2 linked regions of the Homo sapiens genome follow. The protein of the gene in region 1 interacts with the protein of each later gene in a pairwise test. Each region holds a gene or a part of one and is shown in the gene's direction. Other genes may lie near its edges.

Evidence for each region.
Region 2: the proteins of MBNL1 (region 1) and ZNHIT3 interact in a two-hybrid assay, tested with the Homo sapiens proteins (one large-scale study listed by BioGRID and IntAct).

What each region holds. Positions count from the first base shown.
Region 1 is NC_000003.12:152,425,800-152,429,626, forward strand, and holds part of MBNL1 (muscleblind-like protein 1), read left to right. Parts: intron 1-3,827. UniProt on the Homo sapiens protein: Mediates pre-mRNA alternative splicing regulation. Acts either as activator or repressor of splicing on specific pre-mRNA targets. Inhibits cardiac troponin-T (TNNT2) pre-mRNA exon inclusion but induces insulin receptor (IR) pre-mRNA exon inclusion in muscle.
Region 2 is NC_000017.11:36,492,777-36,496,424, forward strand, and holds the end of ZNHIT3 (zinc finger HIT domain-containing protein 3), read left to right. Parts: intron 1-36; coding exon 37-123; intron 124-1,149; coding exon 1,150-1,230; intron 1,231-2,446; coding exon 2,447-2,628; 3' UTR 2,629-3,046; downstream 3,047-3,648. Other genes in the region: MYO19 (unconventional myosin-XIX), read right to left, coding at 3,475-3,630.

The sequences.
Region 1 (3,827 bases):
AAGGATCTAGAACTAGAAATAACATTTGACCCAGCAGTCCCATTACTGGGTATATACTCAGTTTTGTAAATCATTCTACTATAAAGACACATGCACACGTATGTTTATTGCAGCACAATTCACAATAGCAATGACTTGGAACCAACCCAAATGTCCATCAATGATAGACTGGATAAAGAAAATGTGGCACATATACACCATGGAATACTATACAGCCATAGGAAAGAATGAGTTCCTGTCCTTTGCAGGGACATGGATGAAGCTGGAAACCATCATTCTCAGCAAACTAACAACAGGAACAGAAAACCAAACATCTCATGTTCTCACTCATAAGTGGGAGTTGAGCAATGAGAACATGTGGGCACGGGGGGGGAACATCACACACTGGGGCCTCCTGGGGGTTGTGGGGCAAGGTGGGGGATAGCATTAGGAGAAATACCTAATGTAGATGATGGGTTGATGAGTGCAGCAAACCACCATGTCCATGTCACATGTATGCCCATGTAACAAACCTGCACGTTCTGCACATGTATCCCAGAATTTAAAGTATAATAAAAATCAAAAATAATCAAAAAAATAAAACTTCTGGATTCTTTTTCCAAATTATTATTTTTACTTTGTCACATACTGTCTGGTGCAAATTTTGTCTGATGAAAAATTGGTACATAATTTAACCAAAAATAGGCTGTATATCATGGCTTGCAACCTGGAGACCTCTGGTAGATTTCTTTAGTGCATCCCAGCCAAGTGTCCTTCAGAAATTCTGTTGTTGCCAGGCTCTCTTCATTGCCCTCAAAGAGCTCTACATAAGCAGTGGTTATAAAGAGCTTTGCATGATATCTGGAGTTTCTCTAGTAATGGTCTCATGTGCCTTTACCTGTGATCCCAAAGTTAACCTTGGCTATCTATAATTTGTGATGGCAGCTATTCTTTGGGTAAACAAATTAGCTATCTCAGGGTCCATAATTTGTGTAGAAATCCTGTGCATTACATGAACTTTGAAATAGCCTAGGAATAGAGAAATTCAGTTTCTGGTTTTAGCTAATGTCTTGAGAGCTTCTTTGCTGCTTCTGTAACCTAGATAGACTTTGCTGTCACATCATGTTCCAAGCATTTGTTGCCATTCAGATGCAGAATGCTTTGAAGTCATCATTTGTCATTCATTCTTCCAGGAACACCTAGAATTCTTAAATAGTTTTTTGGTTCTTTACTTTCCACTTTATCCAGGTAATGGTTGAGATAAGGCACTTTATCCCAGAGTGTTTCTGGTAAAATGTTTCCATGTCAGTTTCTCTGAGTAGTCTTTCATCCATCCTGCTGTTGTTACTGCCTTTTTCCATTAAGGAGCCTGTGAATCCTCAAACAGCCTGAGAGAATGGGCCCTGGATTTTAGGAACTAGGCCATGCCTGGTTGATACCTTTCTACTAGGAAGTCCAGAGTGTTCTTTATTTAAATGTTTGTTATTTCAGTCAAACTGGATTGAAGGATAAAGTGAAACTAAGAATGAAGGAGGTACTCATTGATTTATCCAGTTACAAGTCAGTCTAGGAGCAAAGTTATAACAGTATCTCTTATTTTATTCGTCATTTGCTACCCTTTTTTTAAAGATAGAGGGTCTTGCTTTGTCACCCAGGCTAGAAGGCAGTGGTGCAGTCGTAGCATACTGTAAGTTCACACTCCTGGGCTCAAGTGATTCTCCTGCCTCAGCCTCACAAAGTGCTGGGATCATAGGCCAGACCCACTGTGCCTGGCCCTGCTTTCTTAGAAAAAAAGAACTTTATAATATGAATTTGTTGATAACTCCTGTTAGCTTTTGGCACTGTTTATATTCAAAATAGTTCAGTGAGACTAGTTACAGGGTTATGCCTACCCAGAAACATGCTTTCATATACCTTGATTATGTGTGCTTTTTTAAAAAAAATTTTTTTATATTAAAAACATTTTTAAAATAAAAATTTTAAAAATTTTAAAAAATATTTAAAAATTAAAAAAATTTTTTAAAATATTTTATTTCTTTATATACATACATAAAATCTAGAATAATATGACTTAAAATTTGTGATCTGTGAATTTCATCTGATATTGATTACATATTATTTGTTACATATACTCCCTCTATTTTTTTTTTAAATCTCAAACATTGCAAAACAAACAGTGTTCACATGGTGTTTTAAGATAAATATCAGCCCCTGTGATATTTGCAACATTACAGCATGGTAACTACATTACTGAAACTTAGAAAGCTTAATATAAAAAATTGCAAAACAAAAGGAAAAAATAAACTTTGGACAGGTATATTAGAGATAGTAATTATTGAATTTTGAGGTAAAGAAAGAAACAATCACTTTTATTTCACATTCAAGTATATATTCTAAAGAATATTTAATGTATTTGCTTGTTTCTGTGGCAGAGAAAAGCAGCAAATCCATTAGTATATATGTTAAGTAAATGTTTGTAGAAGATCTGTATAGATGCTAAACGCAGCGTATACATAACATGAACAAGACATAAAGCAAAAGTCTGCCCTCTAGGAGCCTCCAGTCTTGTCAGACTAGAGGAGATATTCAGGTAAACACTGGCAGTGGTATATGCTGATTCGAGTAATTAGGAGTTCGTGGGAACAGAGGGTAAGAAAAACCCCTTTATAGTTAGAGATGTAGATGGATCAAGAGAAACTTACCTAAAGAGTCCTAATTCTTGAAGCACAATTAGGAATTAAACAGATTGGCTAGGCACAGGTAGCATTCAATGTGGAGGATAAACCATGTTTAAAAGAAAAGAGCTATAAGGGAACATGTATCCTTAGAGACCTTACTTACAGTCAGAAAAATGTACCTATATCTGTAGAAAACCACATAGTGTGTGGAACTAGAATCACCTAGGAGCTTTCAAAAAATACTGCCACTTACCAGAGATTCTGACGAGTGAGGAGTGGCCAGGGCATTCACGGTTTAAAAGTCCTCCGGATGATTTTAATGGACACCTGGTTCATTGTGTGAAAACCACTTTATCACAACCACTTGGAATCAGACATACCTGTGGTCACATCCTAGGCCTTTGATTCACTCATTTGTGTCTATAGACACATAATCTTTGTGATCCTTTTTCCTTATCTGCAAAAATGGGGCTAATACCCACTTCAGAAGGCTGCAATTCACTCATTCATTCATTCACTCAAGTACTAATTCAACAGGTATTTATTGAGCGCCTACTGTGTGCCAGGCATTGTTCCAGGCTCTGGAGATTTAGTAGGGAACTAAACAGATCTCTTCTGATCTGTACCCCTCAAAAAACACAAAAGAAAAGAAAATTACCAAGGGAATTTATACTCTACTGTTGTAAGGATTAAATACAATAAATAGCACCGATAAAGCACTCAGCATGATGCTGACACAAAATAAATAAGGAATTACTACTAATAATCATGTTTGCATAGTTAACTGGGGTCATAATATGAAATTAACACTTTGATTTATAATGAAGTCTGATTACCTTAATGGAATCAATGTCTGATTTAAAACAAACAAGTGATTAACCCATAAACAGCACCAGAATTAGTAAGTTTGTACTTTGTTTTTCTCTGATGAGGATGTTCATTGGCAAAAGGCAATTATAAACCAAACTTTCTTATGTCTTTCAGGAACAGAGATACTTACAAATCATTATCACAAGAATATAGTCAGTATCAAATATACCAATTACATTGTTATATGTTATCCTTCAGAGAAAACAGGATGCCACTTGATAACAACATTGCATTAATATCTGTCTTTGAGATTCTGCTGAACCCCCTGCAGGTTAGCTTTTGGAATAGAAAACTGGCAGT
Region 2 (3,648 bases), on another chromosome or scaffold:
GAGGTAATGTGGGCCTGGGATTTGTGTCTTTTTCAGAACAGTGCAACCCTGAAACTCGTCCTGTTGAGAAAAAAATAAGATCAGCTCTTCCTACCAAAACCGTAAAGCCTGTGGAAAACAAAGGTGGGTTGGTTGACTTCAAACAAATCTACAAGGGACTTCACATAGAATAAGTCGAAGGAAAAGGGGAGAGTGGGGCTGGTCAGGGAATCCAGAACAATAGCTTCATTGGGAAGGAACAGCTTCCTTAGCCTTGAGCATCAGGAGTGGGGCCATGTCATCATGGGTGATATTGAGGCAACAGCCTGAAAGCAGTATTCAGGAGAAGAAAAATGGGCAGAAGACAGAGATGAGAAAGGCCATGGCTGTGGTTTGGGGGTTTGCGGTGGGCCCTGCTGGCAGGAGCCTTCTCTAGCCCATAGCTGCTGGTCTCCCTCCATGAATCTGGCTGGGACTGTCAGTTCACCTGAACTCAGCCCAGGCAGGAGGCTTTCTTTGTCCTAGATCATCTCGCTGCTGCTGGGGGTTCAGAGCTCACAGCAGTAGTGGGCTGTCAACCCATCCGTCCAGCCATCTAAACGTTCTTTAATACCTCCTGGGTGTCAAGCACCATGCCAGGCTCTGAAAGCAGCCCCTCTGGTGCCACCAAAGAGGTATTGAACATTCACTCCAAAGGCATGGCCCATTTTTGCCCTTTGAGAAATTTCCAGGTTGGGTTCAGGCAATGCCAGCAGTTTCTGCCCATGCTGAAAGCACAGGAGATTCTACTTGGCTGGTTTTTACAGAGCATCCAGTTAATTGGCCCATCACAGGGTTGGAGCCATGTTGAGGTGGGGATGGGTATTAAGTTATTAGACAACCGGGGTCTAAGCCTAAAGACCACAGGACCACATATACAGTAAGGATGTGAACACTAGAGTGCATTTGTTAAAATCACCAATTCTTTCACTTAGCCTCCCTCTTCTAAAAAAGGAGTGTTAGTATAGTCACAGACTCCGGAGAAGAGGATTTTTGTCTGTACCTGCTTGAATACCCCTATCACTATCACATGTGCGTGCACACATTTTTATCCTGTTCAAGTAGTGGTTAAAATCTGGTGCCCAGGCCTCCTTTTTAGCCATGAGCCATTGACTGTTTTGTATTCCTTAGATGATGATGACTCTATAGCTGATTTTCTCAATAGTGATGAGGAAGAAGACAGAGTTTCTTTGCAGAATTTAAAGAATTTAGGTAAGTCTGTGCTATGCTTGTCAATCGTTGAGATACATTTACTGTGTTGTAAGGATTGTGATTTTTTAAAAAGTTTTTAATTTCTTGAATAAGTATGGCATGTAGGGCTCTTACTATCTAGCCACATAATCTGTAAACATACAGGGTTTCACACCTCCCAGCCTGCCCACACCATTCCTTCTGCCTGGAATCCTGCTGGTCTTGTGGGTTGGCAAAATTCTGCTCCTCCTTCAAGCCTTGGTTCAAGTTTTCTTCACTCAGCTAAGCTTTTCTTGACCTTTTGTGTCTCTTTCAGAATTAGGCACTTTTTTGGTTTCCCATAGCAACTTGGACTTAATAGTAATAAATCACTGTTACATTTCATGGTAATTTGTCTCTCACATACCGATTTGTACAGCAGGGACCTGTATTCCCAGATCCCCAGTGCTCAGCTCACAGTCCAGCCCTTAACACAAACTGGTTATCACATGATTTGATTTAGGGGGAAACAGGTGTTGCCATTTTTGTAGCACTGCTTATTCAGTCCTTACAACATTCTGTTACATGTGCATGGGGTCTGTTAATTTCATTCTTCCCATTTCACAGAATCATGTTAAAAGGTTATGTTTTGCACTTAGTCTCATGGTAATGATTAGTTAGACTGAGTTTGGAGATGAGCTAGTAATAGGTGTGAAAAATTTTACAGACTGTGAAGTACCATGCAGGTATTATTGTTGGTTCCCTGCTACTGGTGCTGCTGCATGCCAAATGGCATGCTTAGACATCATTCAGATTATTTCGTATAGCCGTCTTCACCACTGGCAACTTTTATGGCTAGAAAGAAAGAAAACATGCCAGCAGCTTAATGCTACTATTTGCTTTGTGATTGTGCTGATAAAGCATTTTTTTCTTAGCTGAAGTGGCACGAAGTTACAATATTTACAAAGATACCAAGAACTGGTATCTGTTACTGCATTTAATGCGGAAATAGTTTGATATGCTGGTCTTACCTTTCATTTTATAGAGGTGGGGTCTCGCCATGTTGCACAGGCTGGTCTTGAACTCCTGAGCTCAAGCAATCTGCCCACCTTGACCTCCCCAGTTGCTGGTATTACAGGCATGAGCCACCACACCTTGCTGATAGTTTTATTACACTTGAAATAGCTCTTCACTTTTCAGCCATCTCCATGTGTTTCCACTTGAACTCAGACTGGCTTTTTTTCTTGTTAATTTTTAGGGGAATCTGCAACATTAAGAAGCTTATTGCTCAATCCACACCTCAGGCAGTTGATGGTCAACCTCGATCAGGGAGAAGACAAAGCAAAGCTCATGAGAGCTTACATGCAAGAGCCTTTGTTTGTGGAGTTTGCAGACTGCTGTTTAGGAATTGTGGAGCCATCCCAGAATGAGGAGTCTTAAGATGGATTATTGTGCTGCTTGCTCAAGCGTGTGCTTGACTCCTGGAACCTGCCTGCTCCCTCTCCCAGACCAGCTAGTTTGGGGCTGGGGAGCTCAGGCAAAAGAGGTTTCCAGGATGCAGATTAGGTCATGCAGGCCTTTACCGGCATTGATGTGGCTCATGTTTCAGGCAGACTTGGGGTCCTTAAGGTGGCAAGTCCTTTATGGAGAGAAAACTTGACATTCAGATGATTGTTTTTAAATGTTTTACTTTTGGTACAGTTGATAGACATCATAAACGATATCAAGCTTACACTTCATATGGAGTTAAACTTGGTCAGTGTTAATAAAATCAAAACGTGATTCTACTGTACATTGCATTATTCATAATTTAATTGTTTGAAATTACATTAAATAAATCAACTAATTAAATACTAAAGTTTTGTTCCTTTTTAAAGGAAATAACCACAAGATTTTTCCCAGCCCAAATTCCAGCGCCAATTTTAGGCCAACTTTGGCTGTTTTCTTCCAAAAGTGCTTATGTGGAATTGGGATCCCCAGTGTAGTGACAGACAGTCATGACTGCTGCTGAGTTTGATCTGTGAAGGTAGTGAAATGTGGCCCTGATGTTTCTTAACCCTGATTTGGTAACTACCAGCCCTGACACCATCAGTGCTTGATGTAGCCTGGAACCCCAGGCCCACTGACGCACTGGGCACGGGGCTCTGGGTCGAAGGCTGGAGCCGTCACTGTTGTTCATGTGCATTTGGAGCACTGTGGGAATAGTCTGGCAGCTGTGTGCTGATTAAATGTCTTTGGCAAGGCAGGGGGCAGGAAAAGGCCTTGTGGAAACAAAGGCACCAAGGATCACCCCAGCCCAGTGAAGGCAGAAGAGGTCACGTGGATCAGCCTGTGTCTTTCCAGCAGAATCTGATTAAAGCCTGTAATGCTGTAGGGTGAAGGTTCAGGGCAGATGTCAGCATACCGCAGTGGAGACTTTCTGCAGTGAAACTTTATCGATCCCTAGAGGGGAGAGAGAGA